Linked DNA regions of Homo sapiens: region 1 is linked to region 2. The links come from fine-mapping of genetic effects on gene expression. A gene starts in region 2. The other region holds a variant in brackets. All regions are shown on one strand. Distances are from middle to middle.

Region 1 (5,366 bases), 21 kb after region 2:
TGAAGGCTAGGCTAAAAGAGTAAGGTCAAATTGTTTGGACAGAAAGACTACAGGGCGCGGTCCTGGCTCTTGTGTAAGAATTCCGACCACAGAGTCCTGCACTTTGGCTGTGTATAATGAAAAAGGTTGGGATGAGTTAGGGAGAGCTAGTGTGGGAGCAGCTTTTAGAGCTGTTTTTTAAGGAATGGAAAGGGGAGTGGGGAAAGGATTTAGGATTTATGGGGTCAGCTAGGTTTATCTAGAATAGAATAATGGGTTGTGGAGGGAGGTATTGAGGATAGGAGAGTATATGGGTTTGGCACCACGGGGTGGATAGGCAAAACAATTTGGTTGATAAGGCGCAGATCCTGAACTAACCTGTAATACTTGTCTGGTTTTAGGACAGGTAAAATGGGGGAATTGTAAGGAGAGTTTATAGGTTTTAAAAGGCCATGCTGTAACAGGCGAGTAATAACAGGCTTCTAAAGCGTGCTGTGTGATGGGATATTGGCGTTTAGCGGGGTATGGGTGATTAGGTTTTAATGGGATGGTAAGGGGTGCATGATCAATCGCCAAGGAGGGAGTAGAGGTGTCCTACCCTTGTGGATTAAGGTGGGGAGATACAAGGGGAGAATGCAAAGGAGGCTTTGAACTGGGGAAAAAGGCAGCAATGAGATGTGGCTGTAGCCCAGGAACAGTCAGGGAAGCAGATAATTTAGTTAAAATGTCTTGACCTAACAAGGGAGCTGGGCAGGTGGGGATAACTAGAAGGAGTATATAAAAGAATATTGTCCAAGCTAGCATCAGAGTTGGGGAGTTTTAAGAGGTCTAGAAGCCTGGCCGTCAACACCCACAACAGTTATGGAGGCATAACAAACAGGCCCTTGAAAAGAAGGTAATGTGGAGTGGGTAGCCTCAGTATTGATTAAGAAGGGGATGGACTTACCCTTCACTCTATAAGAGTTACCCAAAGCATCTGTGATGGTCCAGGAAGCTTCTGAGGCAATTGGGCAGCGTCGGTCGTCAGCCGCTAAGTCAAGAAGATCTGGGAAGGAGTCAGTCAGAGAGCCTTGGGCCGGAGTTCCAGGGACTCTGGGGTTGGCTGCTGGGTGACTTGGACAGTCTGATTTCCAGTGGGGTCCCATACACATGGGACACGGCTTAGGAGGAATCCTGGGCTGCGGGCATTCCTTGGCCCAGTGGCCAGATTTCTGGCACTTGAAGCAAGATCCTGGTGGAGGAAGTCCTGTAGGAACGCCTGGCCGCTGTGGCTTAGGTGTGCGCGGCTTAGGCATTTTGAAGTTCTTGTATGCTGGAGGTGCGGCTGGGTTTTGTCTCATGGCAGAGGCAAGTAATTGTAACTCAGAAATGCGTTGCTGTCTGGCTGCCTCTGCTCTATTATTGTACACCTTGAAGGCGAGGTTAATTAAGTCTTGTTGTGGGGTTTGAGGGCTGGAATCTAATTTTTGGAGCTTTATTTAATGTCAGGAGCGGACTGGGTAATAAAATGCGTATTAAGAATAAGATGGCCTTCTTTCTGACCTTTCAGGGTCTAGGGCTGTAAAGCGTCTCAGGTTGCTGCCAAACGAGCCAAGAACTGGGCTGGGTTTTTCTATTTGATGAAAAAGAGCCTAAACGCTAACTGATTTGGGAGAGGTCGGATAAAGAAAAACCTTGACCATGCCTTTGGCTCCAGCCACCTTTTAAGAAGAAATTGCTGGGCAGGTCGGGGAGGGCTAGTCGCAGAACGAAACTGTAAGCCGCGTCGGGTGTGAGGAGAGGAGGTGATAAAAGGATTATAGGGTAGGGGAGCGGAGGCTGAGGAAGAATTGGGACCTGGCTAGGCCTGGTGAGGAGCAACCTGGGGAGGAAAGGAGAGGTCAGATGGGTCTGTAGAAAAGGAAGATTGGAAAGACTCAGCAATGCTTGGGGTTGGGACTGAGGGGACAGGTGGGAGGGAAAGAAGCAAGATTTGGGACTAATTGCATTGGGAACAGAGACTAGGGAGGGACTGATGTGTAAAAGAATGCCTGGACGTCAGGCACCTCAGACCATTTGCCCATTTCATGACAAGAATTACCTAGACCTTGTAGGATGGAGAAATCGAAAGTGCCGTTTTCTGGCTATTTGGAACCATTGTCAAGTTTGCATTGGGGTCAAGCAGCATTGCAGAAGAAAATAAGGCATTTAGGTTTTAGGTCAGGTGTGAGTTGAAGAGGTTTTGAGTTCTTGAGAACACAGGCTAAAGGAGAAGAAGGAGGAATGGAGGGTGGAAGTTTGCCTATAGTGAAGGAGGCAAGTCCAGAGAAAAGAGAGGGTAGAGACACGGAGAGAAGGTGGGGGGATGCTTGCCCCCCAGGACAGTGGAAAAGGGGTAGACACACAGAGAGAAGGGATGGGGGGTGCTTGCCCCCCAGGACAGTGGAAAAGGGGTAGAGACACGGAGAGAAGGGGTGAGGGGTGCTTGCCCCCAAGAAAAGCAGTGCTTGCTGCTAAGGGTGAAGGACCAAGGCAGGCGTCCCTGTGTGATCAGACACCTCTGAAACGTGGGTGAGTAATCAAGCAGGCATCCCTGCGTGATTAAACACCAAGGGAAGACTGTTTTCCCGAGTCCGTAACTAGCGATGGAGTTTTGGGTTCACGGATAAAACGCGTCTCCTGTCTCTACCAGAAAAGGAAAGGCACTGAAATTAAGAGAAGGGAGAGACTGAAAGATGGCACCAAGATTCAAAGGAGAAAGAGGTTGAGGGATAGTGAGAGAGGTTGGAGAAAAGCGTAAAAAGAGGCCGCTTATCCAATTTAAAATTGGTGAGATGTTCCTTGGGCTGGTTGGTCTGAGGACCAGAGGTCGTAGGTGCAAAGAGCAGGAGGACAGGGGATTGATCTCCCAAGGATCCCTGATCCGAGTCATGGCACCAAATGTCACACGCATCCGTGTGAAGAGACCACCAAACAGGCTTTGTGTGAGCAATGAGGCTGTTTATTTAACCTGG[G/T]TGCAGGCGGGCTGAGTCCGAAAAGAGTCAGCGAAGGGAGATAAGGGTGGGGCAGCTTTATAAGATTTGGGTGGGTAGTGGATAATTACAGTCAAAGGGTGTTGTTCGCTGGCGGGCAGGGGCGGGGGTCATAAGGTGCTCAGTGGGGGAGCTTTTGAGCCAGGATGAGCCAGGAGAAGGAATTTCACAAGGTAATGTCATCAGTTAAGGCAGGAACAGGGCATTTTCAGTTCTTTTGTGATTCTTCAGTTACTTCAGGCCATCTGGATGTATACGTGCAGGTCACAGGGGATATGATGGCTTAGCTTGGGCTCAGAGGCCTGGCAATCCTAAAGTCCAAACAGCCCTGTGATGTGAAGATAACGATTCGTTTTTCTCTTTCATCGATAAGGAATCTTGTGGCAAAGAAAAGCTCAGTAACTTGCCCTTGATCAGAGTGTCAGAGAAGATATTTGCACCAAAGGCCTGGCTCAGAAGCCCCACCCCAACACTGCTGCTATGGTTTAGGTGTGTCCCCCACATTTCTCTCTCTCTCTTTTTTTTTTAGATGGAGTCTGGCTCTGTCACCCAGGCTGGAGTGCAGTGGTGCGATCTCAGCTCACTGCAGCCTACCTCCCAAGTTCAAGCAATTCTCCTGCCTTAACCTCCTGAGTAGCGGGGATTACAGGTCCCATCACCATGCCTGGATAATTTTTGTGTTTTTTAGTAGAGACAAAATACAGGCTGGTCTTGAACTCCTGACCTCAGTTGATCCACCTTCCTTGGCCTCCCAAAGTGCTGGGATTAAAGGCGTGAGCCCCCTCGCCCAACCTCCTCTTTTTTTCAATTGACACAGAGTCTCGCTCTGTCACCCAGGCTCGAGTGCAGTGGCAGGTCGCCACTTAGTTCACTGCAACCTCTGCCTCCCGGGTTCAAGCGATTCTGGTGCCTCAGCCTCCCAAGTAGCTAGAATTACAGGCTCCTGCCACCACATGCAGCTAATTTTTGTATTTTTAGTAGAGGTGGAGTTTCACCATGTTAGCCAGGCCGGTCTCAAACTCGTGACATCAAGTGATCTGCCTGCCTTGGCCTCCCAAAGTGCTGAGATTACAGGTGTGACCCACTGTGCCCAGCTGTCTTTTTTTTTTTTAGACAGGGTCTTGCTCTGTTCCCCAGGCTGGAGTGCAGTGTTGTGATCATGGCTTGCTGCAGCCTCCACCTCCCAGGCTCAAGCAATCCTCCCATCTCAGCCTCCTGAGTAGCTGGAACCACGCCTGGCTAATTTTTTTGACTTTTAGTACAGACAGGGTCTCACTCTGTTGCCCAGGCTGGTCTCAAACTCCTAGCCTCAAGCAACCTTCCCATCTTGGCCTCCCAAAGGGCTGGGATTACAGGCATGAGCCGCTGCACCTGACCCAGCCTCCAAAACTGTAAGAAGTAATTGATTTTCCTTATAAATTACCCTTTCTGTGGTAATCTGTGACAGCAACAGAAAACAAACTAAACAGACCAGGACGATGACATTGGAGCCACCAACAACGTCGGGGCCAGGTCCCCTCGCAACCCCCATGGCAGGCTCAGGAAACAGTCCTGGTATCTTCCCATTTTTCCCATGTAAAAATCTGCTGGAGGGCCCAGTGGCTCATGCCTGTAATCCCAACACTTTGGGGGGCCAAGGCGGGCAGATCATCTGAGGTCAGGAGTTTGAGACCGGCCTGGCCAACATGGTGAAACCCACCCTCTACTAAAAATATACAAATATGGCCAGGCGCGGGGGCTCACACCTGTAATCCCAGCACTTTGGGAAGCCGAGGCGGGCGGATCATGAGGTCAAGAGATCAAGACCATCCTCGCCAACATGGTGAAACCCTGTCTCTACTAAAAATACAAAAAATTAGCCAGTGTGGTGGCGGGTGCCTGTAGTTCCAGCTACTTGGGAGGCTGAGGCAGGAGAATCGCTTGAACCTGGGAGGCGGAGGTTGCAGTGAGCTGAGATTGCACCACTGCACTCCAGCCTGGGCAAGAAGAGTAAAACTCCGTCTCAAAAAAAAAAAATCTGGAGGTGATGTTTTTCAGTGAGCACAGATTACTGTGTAACCAGGAATAACATTTATTTTCTAAATGTTCCACAAATAATATATGCTGTGAATGGGGGAATATGCCAGGGCACCAGTAGCCTGTGAGGGCAAGAGGAGCTCAGTAGGGATCAGTTTCTGCTCAGCGCCTGGGCTGGGCCCTGAGGTGTTGGCGTTGAGATGGGAATGGGCTGTGCAAAGAAAGCACCCCAGGCTCCTGTACCAAACGACTCAGACTGGTTGTATCTGCAAATTGAAGGCCTGTAGGAATGTAGGTGGGACCAAAGGTGGTCTCTAGAGTGCCTAGAGTTAGGGCCAGGAGCCAAGCAGGGCGGGGATC
Region 2 (5,366 bases):
AAACTTTGCTCAACTTTAATTTTTCAGTCAGAAAAGTGTAAGCTGAACCAATTGAGACGTCTTTGGTGTTGGCTGTTGTTTGTGCTGTTAATCGTTGGTCCTCTTCATGAGGGCACAAATAAGATTAATTATTTTACTCAAAAATTGATGTGGATGGTCTGCCACTGAGGGCTTTATCCTCAACATTGTCTCATCCCTTCTCTTTTTTTTTTTTTTTGAGATGGAGTCTCCTTCTGTCACCCAGGCTGGAGTACAGTGGCACAATCTCGGCTCACTGCAAACTCTGCCTCCCGAGTTCAAGCAATTCTCCTGCCTCAGCCTCCCGAGTAGCTAGGATTACAGGCACCCACTACCACGCCCGGCTAATTTTTTGTATTTTCAGGCACCCGAGTAGCTGAGACTACAGGCGCATGCCACCATGCCAGCTAATTTTTTGTATTTTAGTAGAGACGGGGTTTCACTGTGTTGCCCAGGCTGGTCTTGAACTCTTGAGCTCAGTCAATCCGCCCACCTCGGCCTCCCAAAGTGCTGGGATTACAGGCGTGAGCTGCCGCGCCCAGCTTAATTTTTGCTTTTTTAGTAGAGACAGGATTTCAGCATGTTGGCCAGGCTGGTCTCGAACTCCTTACCTCAAGTGATCCACCTGCCTCGGCCTCCCAAAGTGCTGGGATTACAGGCTGAGCCACCACGCCTGGCCTCATCCCTTCTTAAAACGAGTTTTCCATTTGCAAACTGCTGGTTTCTTGGGGGCATTGTCCCCATGAGCTTTTCATAAAAATATCAATGATGTCACCATAAATGTGATGATTATTCTTGCTTCAAATTTAGCAGAATCCTTGTTGCTCTGACAGGAGCTCTTTTCAAACTGATGTCTTATCCTTCTTAGTGCCTCAAACTAGATCTTGTCGAGACATGTGATAACAAGTTAGTACAAATTTATTTTGGTGCCAAAAAATTTTCAAATCCATGCATAGTTTTTTTCATAGTATGAATTTTCCATGAACCTTTTGAAGACCGCTTGTATAGAAAAAAACAGTATATATAGGGTTTGGTGCTATCCAAAGTTTCAGGCATTCACTGGGAGGTCTTGGAACTATCCCAGTGGATAAGGGAGGACTACTATGCTAAAAACTATCCCTTGTTTAACTGAAATTCAAATTAAACTGAGTGGCCTGCATTTTATCTGCCAACCCTACCCTGGGGGCACTTAAAAATACCAGAGGCCAGGCGGGGCGCGGTGGCTCACGCCTGTAACCCCAGCACTTTGGGAGGCCGAGGCGGGCAGATCACGAGGTCAGGAGATCGAGACCATCCTGGCCAACATGGTGAAACCCCGTCTCTACTAAAAATACAAAAATTAGCCGGGCGTGGTGGGGTGGGTGCCTGTAGTCCCAGCTACTCACGAGGCTGAGGCAGGAGAATCGCTTGAACCTGGGAGGCGGAGATTGCAGTGAGCCGAGATCGGGCCACTGCACTCCAGCCTGGCGACAGAGCAAGACTCCGTCTCAAAAAAAAAAAAAAAAAGAAGAATTGCTTATCCACGCCCTGTTTCTTTTCTCTTAGCGTTACTCAGTGGGGGAGTCCTCCCAAGTATGATGGAGAGTCCTTTCGAAACCCTGCTGGATTGTCAGGACAACCAACTGGGCTACTTTTCCACAGGTCGCCCCAATTCCTTTGGATTCTGATTTCTCTGAGGTCCCAGGATCCAGACAGGCTTGGCCAATCCTTCCCCGCCCAAACTGTAACTCTCAAAACCAACACCCCGGCATAGGGCTGGAGGGGAAAATGGGTGAGGTCAGAGACAAAGAAGAGGGAAGGGTCAGGCGGGGCTCCGGGTTCCCTGCCACAAGCCTCCGCTGGTGTTCTGCTTTTCTCCCGAGAGCTCCCGCCCACCCTGCAACCCTCGCCTGGCCCCGCTGCCGTTCTCAGCTCCCTCCCAGTGCCTGGTGGAGGCCGGGGCTGTGTCCCGAAGGGGGTCGGGGCAGCAGAACCTCAGCCACAGCCAATCACAGCGGGGTCCTTCGGGGAGGGGCGTGGCCTGACAACTTCGGCGACGCGGCTGGACCAATCCGGACGGAGGAGAGCGAAGCTCCTCTGCACTGGGCCCAGGTGCGCTCCTCAGCGTCTCCGGGTGGCGGGGCGCGCGGGATGGAGGAGTCTTGGGAGGCTGCGCCCGGAGGCCAAGCCGGGGCAGAGCTCCCAATGGAGCCCGTGGGAAGCCTGGTCCCCACGCTGGAGCAGCCGCAGGTGCCCGCGAAGGTGCGACAACCTGAAGGTCCCGAAAGCAGCCCAAGTCCGGCCGGGGCCGTGGAGAAGGCGGCGGGCGCAGGCCTGGAGCCCTCGAGCAAGAAAAAGCCGCCTTCGCCTCGCCCCGGGTCCCCGCGCGTGCCGCCGCTCAGCCTGGGCTACGGGGTCTGCCCCGAGCCGCCGTCACCGGGCCCTGCCTTGGTCAAGCTGCCCCGGAATGGCGAGGCGCCCGGGGCTGAGCCTGCGCCCAGCGCCTGGGCGCCCATGGAGCTGCAGGTAGATGTGCGCGTGAAGCCCGTGGGCGCGGCCGGTGGCAGCAGCACGCCATCGCCCAGGCCCTCCACGCGCTTCCTCAAGGTGCCGGTGCCCGAGTCCCCTGCCTTCTCCCGCCACGCGGACCCGGCGCACCAGCTCCTGCTGCGCGCACCATCCCAGGGCGGCACGTGGGGCCGCCGCTCGCCGCTGGCTGCAGCCCGGACGGAGAGCGGCTGCGACGCAGAGGGCCGGGCCAGCCCCGCGGAAGGAAGCGCCGGCTCCCCGGGCTCCCCCACGTGCTGCCGCTGCAAGGAGCTGGGGCTGGAGAAGGAGGATGCGGCGCTGTTGCCCCGCGCGGGGTTGGACGGCGACGAGAAGCTGCCCCGGGCCGTAACGCTTACGGGTGAGTGCTCACCTGCGCCGGCAGCCGACGCCGCCAGGTCGGGTGGACGTAGCCGAAACCCCCACACCCGCCCAGCCCTGGACCGCTGGGCAGCTGACCGACTAAGGGACCCAGTTGGCCATCCCGATCCCCAACCCGATCTGGCCTCTCGGGCTTACAATCAATAACATTCCTGTCTACGTAACTGTAATTCACATTGTTGCCGTGTCTCACGCCTGTAATCCCAGCACTTTGGGAAGCCGAGGCGGGCGGATCACCTGAGGTCAGGAGTTCGAGACCAGCCTGACCAATATGATGAAACCCCGTCTCTACTAAAAATACAAAAATTAGCCTGGCATGGTGGCATTCACCTGTAATCCCAGCTACTCAGGAGGCTGAGACAGGAGAGTCGCTTGAACCCGAGAAGCGGAGGTTGCAGTGGGCCGAGATCATGCCATTGTACTCCAGCCTGGGCAACAAGAGAGAAACTCCGTCTCAAAAAAAAAAGAGTAAAGCCACTCCCCTTCTCATCCTCCCCTACCCGCACTCCCGAACTTTCAAATTCCCTCTTAGCATGCGCAGCACCTTTGAGAAGTAGCAGTGGAAGGAACTCCAGATGAGGGGAAGTCATTCAGGATCAGGTGGCAGGGGTGGCAGCCCAGATCCCCCCATCCCTGCACTGCCAAGGACTTTCTGGAAGGTCCAGGCTGCTGCTTTCTTTCCACCACACTGAGGAACATTTAGCCCCAAACACTCATCCATTCAGTAGATAGTGAGTGGGACCACAGGGTAGATGTGCCAGTAGTATGTGCGGCTGGTTATTTTGTGGTGTGGGGGAGGGGGAGCTTGACACAGAAGAAAGAGCCCACAAAAGATACAGACTGTCCTGGATAAGGAGACTGGAGGGAGTAGTTGGTGAATTTGGGGCAAGAGATAGCCAATTTTTTTCTTTTTTTCTTTTTTCTTTCTTTTTTTTTTAAGAAATAAGTTTTGCGCTTGTCACCCAGGCTGGAGTGCAATGGCACAATCTCGGCTCACTGCAACCTTCGCCTCCTGGATTCAAGCGATTCTCCTGCCTCAGCCTCCTCCCGAGTAGCTGGGATTACAGGCGCCGGCCACCATGCCTGGCTAGTTTTTGTATTTTTGGTAGACAGGGGGTTTCATCATGTTGGCCAGGCTGGTCTGGAACTCCTGACCTCAGGTGATCCAGCCGCCTCAGCCTCCCAAAGTGCTGGGATTACAGGTGTGAACCACCGGGCCAGCCAGAAAGCCACATCTTGAAAGGTGAGTAGGAGTAGGGGGTGCTAGGGATCCCTGCTAGGTAGAGAGACTGGAAGGAGCAACGGCCAGGAGGGGTCAGAGCCCCGCCCAGCAGGCAAACTGGCAAAAGCTTGGCTGATTGAGAAGCAGGCCAAGCCCACTGACAGGCACCAAATTCCCAGGGCCTCTAGTTGAGAGGTTCTTAGACAGGGCTAGGGTTCAGGGGCTTGGATCACTCAGGAACTTTTGCAGAGTTTGATGTGAGCACATTTTCTGTGTGATGGAATATTAGTTTTCTATTGCTGTTGTAACAAATTACCACAAACTTAGTGTCTTTAAGTGACACAAATGTATTATCTTACAGTTCCGTTAAGTCAGAAGTCTATAATGCCGGCTCACTGGTCTAAAATCGAGTTTTCAGTGGGGCTGCATTCCTTTCTGGGGGTCTAGGGGAGACTCCCTTTTCTTGCCTTTGCTAGCTTCTGGGCTTTTCTTAGGTCAAGCCCTTCTCTATATTAAAATCCAGCGTTGTTGGTAGAGTCCTCCTGCTGCCACTTCTGATGCTCACCACCTGTCTTCCTCTTCCACATATAAGGCTCCTGAAGCTGGGCACGGTGGCTCACGCCTGTAATCCCAGCACTTTGGGAGGCCAAGGCGGGCGGATCACTTAGGGTCAGGAGTTCAAGACCAGCCTGACCAACATCGTCAAACCCCATCTCTACTAAAGATATGAAAATTAGCCAGGCATGGTGGCAGTCACCTGTAATCCCAGCTACTTGGGAGGCTAAGGCATGAGAATTGCTTGAACCCAGGAGGTGGAGGTTGCAGTGAGCTGAGATCATGCCACTGCACTCCAGCCTGGGCGATAGAAAGACTCAGTCTCAAAAAAAAAAAAAAAAAAGGGCCAGACGCGTTGGCTCACACCTGTAATCCCAGCACTTTGGGAGGCCGAGGTGGGCAGATCACAAGGTCAGGAGTTCAAGACCAACCTGGCCAACATGGTGAAACCCCGTCTCTACTAAAAATACAAAAAATTAGCCGGGCATGGTGGCACGCACCTGTAACCCCAGCTACTCAGGAGGTTGAGGCAGGAGAATTGCTTGAACCCGGGAGGCAGAGGTTGCAGTGAGCCGAGATCGCACCACTGCACTCCAACCTGGGCGACAAAGCAAGACTCTGTCTCCAAAAAAAAAAAAAAAAAAAAAAAGAATATCTGGCTTCT

Which allele goes with the higher level. Positions count from the first base shown, and alleles are read on the strand shown. Sizes are in standard deviations (SD) of each study's normalised expression.
With allele T in place of G in region 1, the expression in spinal cord of the gene that starts at base 2,118 in region 2 is higher (large effect, 1.4 SD a copy in GTEx).

What was found. PIP is the estimated chance that this variant, and not a neighbour inherited with it, causes the effect.
Region 1: its variant is fine-mapped to the expression of KLRG2 in spinal cord (GTEx, PIP 0.95).

What each region holds. Positions count from the first base shown.
Region 1 is chr7:139,459,397-139,464,762 of GRCh38, reverse strand. All of the region lies in intron 3 of KLRG2 (killer cell lectin like receptor G2), which reads left to right. Among named protein-coding and RNA genes, the nearest start is that of KLRG2, 22 kb to the left of the region's middle. RefSeq lists an enhancer at 2,076-2,845. The variant G/T (reference allele first, on the strand shown) is at 2,973.
Region 2 is chr7:139,480,425-139,485,790 of GRCh38, reverse strand. KLRG2 (killer cell lectin like receptor G2) reads left to right here and starts at 2,118. Exons shown (of 5, transcript NM_198508.4): 1 at 2,118-2,905. The coding sequence starts at 2,149. RefSeq lists silencers at 1,949-2,008, 2,469-2,748 and an enhancer at 2,879-2,958.